Linked DNA regions of Homo sapiens. The protein of the gene in region 2 purifies or fractionates together with the protein of the main gene of each other region. This does not show direct contact. Each region holds a gene or a part of one and is shown on either strand. Other genes may lie near its edges. The genes, in order: POC5, CEP128 and SLC7A11.

The links.
Region 1: the proteins of CEP128 (region 2) and POC5 purify together in Homo sapiens (co-immunoprecipitation; one large-scale study listed by IntAct). This does not show direct contact.
Region 3: the proteins of CEP128 (region 2) and SLC7A11 fractionate together in Homo sapiens (co-fractionation; one large-scale study listed by BioGRID). This does not show direct contact.

The regions. Positions count from the first base shown.
Region 1 is NC_000005.10:75,686,337-75,689,993, reverse strand, and holds part of POC5 (centrosomal protein POC5), read left to right. Parts: intron 1-828; coding exon 829-982; intron 983-2,665; coding exon of another isoform or gene 2,666-2,784; exon of another isoform or gene 2,785-3,046; intron 3,047-3,657. UniProt on the Homo sapiens protein: Essential for the assembly of the distal half of centrioles, required for centriole elongation. Acts as a negative regulator of centriole elongation.
Region 2 is NC_000014.9:80,931,721-80,935,377, reverse strand, and holds part of CEP128 (centrosomal protein of 128 kDa), read left to right. Parts: intron 1-3,657.
Region 3 is NC_000004.12:138,179,754-138,183,410, reverse strand, and holds part of SLC7A11 (cystine/glutamate transporter), read left to right. Parts: intron 1-105; coding exon 106-209; intron 210-1,017; coding exon 1,018-1,114; intron 1,115-2,620; coding exon 2,621-2,770; intron 2,771-3,657. UniProt on the Homo sapiens protein: Heterodimer with SLC3A2, that functions as an antiporter by mediating the exchange of extracellular anionic L-cystine and intracellular L-glutamate across the cellular plasma membrane.

The DNA.
Region 1 (3,657 bases), on a different chromosome or scaffold from region 2:
TAATCTTTTGAACCTGGGAGGCAGAAGTTGCAGTGAGCTATATCACACTGTTGCACTCCAACCTAGGCAACAAGAGCAGAAATCCATCTCAAAAAAGAAAAAAAGAAATTGAAATTATTTTTTCCCATTGACTTTTAATAATAAAATTAACATTGTTTTCATGGGAAAACATTTGGAATTGAAATGAAATAAAATCCATTCTAAAGAATGCAATAGGCCTCTTGAAGTTAAATATTAAAATGAAAAAATAACTCATTACAGCATTAAATTGTTAAGATTAAAAATAAATCCATAATACAAATAATTTTCTGCAGTTCACTACGACATGCAAAAAATGCAGTCCCCTGAGGTTTGGCCTATGGGAAAGTGTGTTGTACCTAGGGTCACTCTGCACTTCAAATACTGAAGGTAACATTTACATTATAAAAATTCTGTTAATATTGCAGGCATGTAGTTTATTTTATTTTTTTCTGAAAGGGCTGTCTGTGGCTCTTAATGTATTTTGTTTAACATCCTACATAAAAGTTTTACAGTAAAAAATGGTGTATCTTTTTGTGAAATGAAAATACATCAGCAATATTCAATGGGACTGGATAAAATTCCCCTTGTTTGAACCTTGATTTTAAGGTTAGGAATGAAAGCATTTTGTTGATGGAGATAATAGAGGTAAGAGGTACCTTTTAAAATAAATTGCACATAGCAGAAGAGGTAAGTGACAAACTTTTTAATATTTCACATGAGAATAATCTCAAAGTATATATCTATTTTTTTGACAGTATTCTTCTTTGTATCTCAAATTGTTTTGCTTTTTAAACATTCTTATTTTAGTTATCTGGAGCTTTGGAAAATGCAAAAGCTGAGATTCAAAGAATGCAACATGAAAAAGAGCACTTTGAAGATTCCATGAAAAAAGCTTTCATGAGGGGTGTATGTGCATTAAATCTTGAAGCCATGACTATATTTCAAAACAGAAATGATGCAGGTTAGTATTTCATTAAAGTTTCTCTGCCTAATTTCAAAAAAAGATTTGAGGAGATTTTGGTGATTGGTATGGTCTACAGTACAAATAATCTGCAGTAGGTATGTTTCATCCAGGTGCTGCTATTCTTAATTCTATGGTGTCATATCCAGACTTAAATCTGCCATGAAAATGAGCTCAGTCATGGTTACTTATGGTATCTTAGATCTGATCAAGTACACTGTCACTCCTAAGTATTTAAGCTAAATGTTGAAAATAATATTTTAATGTATAGCATTATTTTAAATCTCTTTTAACTAAGAATTTTAATGCCTTTTTAAGTACAAAACTTCTAATTTTGTCTTTTCTTAAGTAGCCAAATATTTTGGACTATTTTGGTAAGTATTTGTTATCTAGTCATGGTTTCTCATTTTAGAAATTCCTAATCTTCCTGTTTATGAAAGGCCTCAACTAAGCTCATTGCAGCAAACATAAATATAGACCTATCTATAGAAGTAATTTTATTTTTTTTAAAAATCCACATATTGTCTGACATAAGAGTGGTTTGTGTAGTAGTTTTGTCAGCATGGCGTAGAAAAGCCCATAACTAGAATCCTTTGCCACCAATTTACCCAGGGGCCTGTTTTCCTCATTCGGCCTTAGATTTCTTCTCTGAGCGAAGGAGATAATATAAACCTTCCTTACCTGCTTCCTAGGGGCTTCTTGTGGGATGCAGTAAAACATATCTGAAAACACTTTAAAAGACAAAATGCACTTTAACGTGTAAGATGATAGTCATGATGTAATTATTAATAGTTTTAATTCAAGTCAACGTCTCAAGATTTTGTAAATGATTAACATGATTTCAATCCAATGAATAACTTCTCTGTGCTTGTGATGCCCTTATTTTAAAACATCAACAAACATTTATTATTTAAAGCATGCATATTGTGGATAGGAGTAAGTTTAGGCAAATTGCTTTCTATCTGAAGTGGTTGTGGTTTGTGGGCCATATTTAATTTAGAAACTGAGAATCATGGAATCTCAAGGCTGAATAGTTTATTTTGGTAATACCTAGGTGAGTACTTGATTTTTCCAATAAATGGTCTTTTATTTGAGTATCAGGGTTGAAAACAAACTCACCACCTTCAATGATAGAATAGTCTGTTTCAGTTCTAAGTATCAGCAAGTTGTGTGTCACAAATTGAGAAATTTAATTGTTTACTTGGGAGAAATATGAGTTTCACAAGTAAAGTGACAAATTCCTATTAGAACTTCTTACATTAAATTACAAGAAACCTGTTTCTTATAACCTACTTAAAAAGATTTTGAATTGACTTAGGAGTATTTCCCACCTTAATACATTTACCATCTTAAAATGTAAATTGAAATGCAACTGTGTCTCCTAAAGGCCAATATCCATAAGAGGATTTGAAGAAAATGTCTTCTGCTAATTACACAACATGATTTCTTTTGCTCCTGTTACTTTTGAAACAATCGATGAGAAAGATGACAAGAATGGTAAAGCATGCATTAGCAATAATGTTGGTAGAGCTACCAAAGGCAAAAAAGTTCAGTATAATTCAGTGGATCTGCTTTGTGATATTTAGGTTTTATGACATTTTAATGACACCTATTTTTTTTAGTTCTCATAAGAAAAAAAAATTACTTTTGGCCCCCTTCTATTAAAACAACTGTTTTTTATAGGCCAGGCGCGGTCGCTCACACCTGTAATCCCAGCACTTTGGGAGGCCGAGGTGAGTGGATCACGAGGTCAGGAGATCGAGACGATCCTGGCTAACATGGTGAAATCCCGTCTCTACTAAAAATACAAAAAATTAGCCGGGCGTGGTGGCAGGCACCTGTAGTCCCAGCTACTCAGGAGGCTGAGGCAGAAGAATGGCGTGAACCCAGGAGGCAGAGGTTGCAGTGAGCTGAGATCATGCCACTGCACTTCAGCCTGGGCGACAGAGCGAGACTATCTCACAAAAAAAAAAATTGTTTTTTATAATGCAGTTTTTAATAATGTAAAGTTCCTAATGCATCTGTCTTGTTAGAGCAAAATAAATATTTGGTTTTTTATTTGTACCGATTCTTTGCTGTCTGTAATTTGCAGTACCTCTCATGTTGTGCAGTATCTTAAATCTTACAAATTAGAGGTTTTTATGAAGAAGTTAGAACATGACAAAAAGTCCTTAAAATTATATCTGCCAATTTTACTGTGCCAATTAGGCACAGTAAAAAAAAATACTTGACAAGTGAAAAATTTATTCCAGCTAAAATGAGATTAATTATTAAACTTAAGAGTTATCTGATATCAGCCTATATTAGCAAGAGTTGATCACCTGCCTCTCTTCCCTGACCTTCATACTGTTTCTACATCTCCTAATGTCTGCCACCATCTAAAGATAGACACTCAGAATCTCTACCAAAACAAGTTAAAACTCAGTGTGTGTTTTGTTTTCAAATTAAAAGTATTTTATATTGAATTAGTCCCTTTCATCAGAGGAGTTCAAAGGATCTAGGTAGGCACTGTAATCATTGTTAAACTTCTTAAATAAGCTAACTAACTAATACTCTGCAAATTTTCTATACAGATAGTCTAAGGAAAGGACTTATGCAGAGGCCCAAATTTCTGGAGGGAAAGAGAACTACATAGAAAACCATTTAAACATACAACTTACATAATGCCCTCTGTT
Region 2 (3,657 bases):
GGTTTCACCATGCTGGCCAGGCTGGTCTTGAACTCCTGACCTCAAGTGATCCACCCACCTTGGCCTCCAAAAGTGCTGGGATTATAGGCATGAGCCACTGTGCCCAGCCAAGCACTTTATTCTTATCAGCTTATTTTGCTTTTAGGGAAGAGTACCTTTACTCATTGGTATACCTGTTTTTCATTTGTTTGTTTGTTTTTGTTTTTTGCTTTCTCACCACTGCCATTTACATGTAACAAGTGTACTGATTAAAAAGTTGGGTTTCGGAAATAGTCTTCTTGCCTGGATTTGAATCCTGGCTCTGCCACTTAAGTTACTTTGCTCCTTTAAGCCTTAGTTCTGTTTTCTGTAAAATGGGGATGATAATAATAATGTTATGAGGATCAAATGAGAGAGCATACATAAAGCACTTAGTACAGAAATTAGTCCATAGGAAACTGTAAATCAATAGCTATTATTATTTCAATAAAGTTGAACATTATTATGCCTTTGTATAAATGTAAGCAAGTAATATACCAGTTATAGTCTCATAATTTTACAGAAAAAAAATTAAAACAAATATTCTTTTTTGTCTTGGTTTATATATGTTTCCAGTTATGGGGTCTCCTATTTATTTAGAAGGTTGCTTTAAGATTATGGTTTGAATCCAGGCTTTTCTAGCTACTTAACTACTGGGAGCGTTAGTAGTTCTTCATTTGCAAAAAAGGGACTACTTTGTTCATTTAAGAAGTAAATATTGAATGTGCCGGACACTCAGACACTATGCTGGGGCCTGGGAATAGATGAACAAGAGCTAGTATATGCCCTCAGGGAGGTTAGAAATCCTGCCTTGTAAGATTGGCCTGAGGTTAAGCCAAGCTTTGCAGAGATACTTTACTGTATGCAAAGTATCTGTCATACCTAGGTGCTCAGTAAATGGTGGTTCTCGCGTTTGTACCTCTGATGTTCTGATTTCCAGCTATGTGCTCCAATCGTTAAATCCAGTATGTTTCTACTTTATCGATGTTTTAAAAAACATTTCCTGTTGACCTTTAATTTTAAGGTCTGCTCAATAAACTTTTGCCAAAGGATGGTCTTTGAGTTCTTAGACAAGAAATCATTATCTTCTTCCTGACCCTTAAAATTGGCTGTGCCATAGTTTGCTGAACCATCTGGTACTGTAAAGCAGTTTTAGGATGAAGGCCATTATTTGTGTAACTTATTAAGACAGGAGGCTTGAAAGCTGGGAATTAACTGCAGAGGGTGGGGGAAGTGTGTCACAGTGTTTGCAGGAAAGATGTGTAGCACATCCTCAGCTGGTGGTTGCATAGGACTCTCCACAGTAAGTGACTTGCTTGCATGGATCCTAATGGTAGGTCGGGCTTGTCTGAAGTCTGCCATCTTATTTCTTGTATATCGGACCTCCCTGGCATCAGAGTCTCAAATATTTTGCAATCTAAGGCTTATTTCCCACACATAAATATTCCTTTCTAGCTACTAATCTCTTTCTTCACATATGCAGACTTCCTAAAAGAATGATTTATACACAGTGCTTCTGCTTTTTCACCTCCTATTTACTCCACAACCTGGCATCGTCCTCACCTAAGCATTTTACTGAGACTGCTTTTGATACAGTCACTAGCACTTCCAAAGGATACTTTCTATTCCTTTTCCTACTTGACGTATTTGTTGGATTTGTCCCTCAGAGTTCACTCAGCATTTGCCCCTAAACAGATGAGACAGATGTCCCATAGTAATTTTAACAGGGAAAGCTTAACATACAGCAGAGGTTGATAAGCCATATCCCATGGGCTAAATTTAGCTTACCACAGGTCAAATCAAGCTACCCCATTCATTTATAATTGTCTGTGCTTTTGTGCTACAGCTGGCAGAGGCTCACAGTTGGGCAGAGAAAAAAAATTTGCTGACTCCTGATATAATTAACTATAAGGGGATTATCTGTAAAAGGACAGAGATGACTCTAAAGAATCCCCTGGGCTGACAGACAGTGCCCAAAGGAGATATAAACTTAGAGGGGGCTCTCTGCAAGGCTGGGATTCCTACCTTGTTGGAGGTGTGGCTATAGCTCCCTGAATGGTGGAGAGACTTACTGAGTTACTGGGGCCATAGCTGATCCACAGTTGCTGGGGAAGGAGAGGACACTGTTCCTAATTAAAGGCGGAGTGACGCTGGAAGGCAGGGAACCACACCACGAATGATGGGCAGGAAACACCTCTCCAGGATGCTGGTAGGGTGAAGCTGGGGGATTGACTGTGAGGTTGTCTGTCAGATTCAGTAAGAATCTGAGTAGGGGGTGGGGCTACTGAAACTTGATGGGAAGCTGCCCAATGTGGGTACTGCTGAAACTTGATGGAGTTGAGTACCACTGGATATCCTCACACAGGATGCTGAAATGAAAATGCAACAAATGGAAAACATGGAACCAGAAAGAGAAGCGCCTTCCTTCTGCAGTGTCCTTTTAAAAAATCATTATTATTATTATTATTATTTGGTTTCAATAGCTTTAGGGCAGGGGTCCCCAACCTTTTTGGCACCAGAGGCACTTTTCATGGAGGACAATTTTTTCACAGACTGGGAGGCAGAGAGAAGGATGGTTTTGGGATGATTCAAGTGCATTGCATTTATTGTGTACTTTATTTCTGTTATTATTACACTGTAATATATAAAGAAATAATTATGCAACTCACCATAGAGTCAGTGGGAGCCCTGAGCTTTTTTTTCCTGCAACTAGACAGTCCCGTCTTGGGGTCATGGGAGACAGTGACACCCAAAGTGTGTTGCTTACGTCCATTCTACTCTGTAGTCTCATTTTTGTTGCTGTCACTGCAGAAAAACCTGCTTCACAAAGATAAGATGTTGGAAATGGAAGCAGGCTTTTTGGTGCACAAGGCAATCTCAGGATATTTTGCCTTGACTTAAATCCAGAACATATAGAGGTTTGAAGTTGTCTCAGACATACTTTTAAGGCCAGAGTCATTTGCAATCTCAGGAAGTTGATCCTCTTCTAGCATGGACAAAGTTGATTCACCTGGTTTATTTACAAGTGGGTTGCGGAACCATTTCTTCCCAATTTGGGGATCTTTTATGGTTGAGAAGTATGTTGGTCCATTCTCATGCTGCTATGAAGAAATACCCGAGACTGGGTAATTTATAAAGGAAAGAGGTTTAATTGACCCATAGTTCCGCATGGCTGCGGAGGCCTCAGGAAACCTACAATCGTGGTGGAAGGGATGCAAACACATCCTTCTTCACATGGCATCAGGAGAGAGAAGTGCCAGGTGAAGGAGGAAAAGCCCCTTATAAAACCATCAGATCTTGTGAGAACTCACTACTATCATGAGAACAGCATGGGGGTAACTGCCCCTATGAGTCAATTACCTCCCACCAGTCTCTCCCACGACACATGGGGATTACGAGAACTACAATTCAAGATGAGATTTGGGTGGAGACACAGCCAGACTATATTAGGAAGTAATACTCAAACTCCTTTGAAAGCTGAGATAGATGATCATACACCAGCTGGGAGAAAGAAGGCCCTGGCTCAGTCTCTTTCAAAATCTCTGCTAATATTTGAAACATGTCAAAAATCCCAATGTTCACTGGTTGCCCCCATAATTCTAGTTTTCTCTGAATGCATCCACTTTATCTGCTGACTTG
Region 3 (3,657 bases), on a different chromosome or scaffold from region 2:
ATCACCAGGCTAATAGAAAGTCATAGAGCAAGTTTGGCCTAAATTGTTTCATTTTATTCCACTTTCTGGCAAGGCATTAATTTGCTTCGTTCTTTCTTTCACTAGACCTTTTCTGAGCGGCTACTGGGAAATTTCTCATTAGCAGTTCCGATCTTTGTTGCCCTCTCCTGCTTTGGCTCCATGAACGGTGGTGTGTTTGCTGTCTCCAGGTGAGTGAGTTCATGTATTTCCAGAAACACATTTCTGTTTTTGAGATTGGATGTGATAAGGATAACTTTAAAAAGAAAAGAAATAGTGCCTCCAAACCTGTTGTTTTTAAAGGGACATGCAAGATTGAAATATTGGTCCAAGTATCAACAGCACGTTTTATTCTGTCCATTAGAGGGCACTGCTTGCCTATTAATAGCTTATTTGGAAGACGGACATGTGGCTTTTTTAAAAATAGTATTTCCACAGTCTAACAATGGCATTTTATTTCTGGTGATATAATTTTCTGTTTCTCTGAAGATGCCAAGAAAAAAGTAAAGTAAGAGACATCAGAAATCACCACCCCTACCATCAGTATTTCCTTTGTTTAGTTTGATGCAATAGTCTTTTTGTTTTAATATACGATTAAAAGCCAATCAGATAAATGTGAATGCTACATATAGGTGTGTGTACCTGTGGATGTGCATGTGTGTGTGTTTGTTGAATTGGATTGACAACACACATATAATACTAGGAATCTAGAACTAGATTTCCCATCAGCTATTTATATGTAGAGAGAGCTATGCTGAGTCAGATATTGCTATTCTTTCTCTTCAAAGAATAATATAATGTTGGCAGATTTTGTAAAATCCAAATTTAGATTTCCTATGATATTTCTCCACCTTATTTGAAAAGTGAACTTAGGCAATCACCTAAGGAATACCTGACCATTTGGTATGAAAAGATGCACGTTTTCTCTGGGATTTTTGGATTTTCCCTTTGAAATGATCAATCATACAGTCAACTCCACCCACATTTCTCTCCCATCAGGTTATTCTATGTTGCGTCTCGAGAGGGTCACCTTCCAGAAATCCTCTCCATGATTCATGTCCGCAAGCACACTCCTCTACCAGCTGTTATTGTTTTGGTAATGCATATTAACAAGTATATCTAGATATAACCTTGAATAATAGGTTAGCAAAAAGGAATTCCAACCAGACATTAGATAGTATTTTACTTTCTCATTCATTGCTAATGTATGTCATGGTGGAGTTTGGGAGGCAGGATATCTTCCATCTCTTCCCTTTACTCCATGTTTCTGATGCCTATTTTTTTTGATGCTTTGGGGCAAAAATCATCATCACCTCACTTTCATCTTTGCAGAAATGTGTAAGGTCTAAGGAAAATGATTGGCTTGGCTCCTCTCATTGACATAGCACCTCACAGAAAAGAATGTAGAGTATTAAGTCCCAATGACTTAAGGAAAGTAGAGCAAAAAGCTACAGTCCAAAAAGTACCCAGATGTATCATCTAGGCACCTTATAATGAAATGCACACAAAATTATTGAAACAATTGATAAAATCCTAGACAGTGCCATGATTCATTTGAGACATTTGAGAGCAAGTGTCTTTTATCCTGCAGGATAAAAATAAAAGCACCACGAGGTAAATTTGAGTTGTAAAATTCTTTCTGCAGAGCAAAGTGTGAAATGTGAGCTACAAAAGACTGTATGAGGTGTAAAAGTCCTCAAATACCCATTGGCAATGTTATATTCATTTTTACTGATGATTTTGTAACATTTCTCTCAACTGGAGTCTGTTGTCAGGAGCACCACAGAATGCACTGAACATTTTTTTTTCATGCATTTAATTTGTTTCAGAACGTTTCCTTGAAATTTCTTTTTAAAGTATGTGTACTCTCTGTGCAGAATCTGGATGTTAACGTCACTTGTGGGAACAGAATGTATTATTCCGTGAAGAGGGCTTTCATTTTAAGCCTCTGCTATCAGTCATGCTGTCCTTGGCATGTGCAGCTGCAGAGACTTGCTAAGCTGATCTCTGCGCTTCATTCTTCTCCGTGGTCTTGAGGGTCACACACGGCAAGCACACCAGGAGAGTAAATGTGGAGGAAAAAAGGTCAATGTTTTGCAATCAAGAGCCAACAGAATCACCTATGAGTGTCTGTGTTTCCTGGGTGTGGATAGCCAAGAGCTCACCGGAGAGCATTTGCAGAGCTTTCTGTAAATCTTCCAATTGGGCCTCTTTTACTGTTCATTATCGGTTATTTACTAATCATCTCAATCTTTGAGTCTTTCAATTTTGAGTCATTGAGTAACCTTTCTTTTACTCTTTGAAGACATACTATCTTCTCTCAAATGCAAAAGGAACTAAAAACACAACACAACATTCATATAGAATTCCACTTGAATAAAGTATAATGGCCATATCACTCTCATACTGTTACTGGTGTGTAAATGGATTATGACAACAGAATATAGAAAAGAGATTAGTCAAATCCAAGTTTTAACTATGATGATAATTTATCGGTATAAATAATTATTTGAAAAAGGTCGTAATGCATAGTGAGGTTTTTGTTGTTAATCATCTGTGTTTTCACTGAATTCACCAAGCTTGCTTCCCTTTCCCCCCTCAGCACCCTTTGACAATGATAATGCTCTTCTCTGGAGACCTCGACAGTCTTTTGAATTTCCTCAGTTTTGCCAGGTGGCTTTTTATTGGGCTGGCAGTTGCTGGGCTGATTTATCTTCGATACAAATGCCCAGATATGCATCGTCCTTTCAAGGTAACCTCAGCAATCTTGATGGGTTTACATAAATCTCTCTCCTAATACCTAGTCCTCCCTTTGTCATAACTTGCTGATGGGGAGGTTGGGCTGGGGGCAGCATCTGTGGAATAAAAATGTTTAACTCTTGCAGGCAGTGCTTTCCTGTTGGATTTATTTTAAGTTGGAAAAAAAACAGTGGATCCAATTTTTTATGTGATGGGCTTGAACTTTGTATGTCAAATTTTTGAAAAATGACTGTATGAATGAATGTTTGGTATGTTGATTTTTCATGAATGTGTTCAATGACCTGATATACTCAAAGTATGGGCTACTTCTGTCTGTCTTTATGCTAGAGTTGTGGACAGCCATGGTGAGGAGGAGTAAGGGAGATACTTTGTTAATGCCAATTCCAAAAAGGAATTTGCCTTTACAAAATAGGCATTTTAAGTACTTAAATGTTGTGACTTGTTACATTGCTCTTTCTCTATATTATACACTCCAAAAAGAATAGAAATGTAAAATATACAGGGAAAGAGAAGATCTACAAATTTACCACTTGATACCCATTTACCATAAGTAAGCATCTCCCTTTTGGAGGACTGGAGAAAAAGCTTGTCATCTTCTTCAGACTTGACTCATGGATTGATTTGACCTCACGATTTATTTGTTTTTAAGAAATGGCATAGATAAGGTTGTCAGTCATGTTGTCAGGATTTGTTTCTAGTAATATTCATTGCCTAATGCTGGTGGCATCTTTATTAGCGGTTGAATAGGAGTTGGCTTGTTTTATTCCTGTCAGTTATTATTGTGGATCTCAACAGAAAAATCAATATGCACTGAAAGACTTTAACATGTAACAAGCAGCCGGTGCTCTTGACTCCACATTAAAGTGGGTTCTAATCATA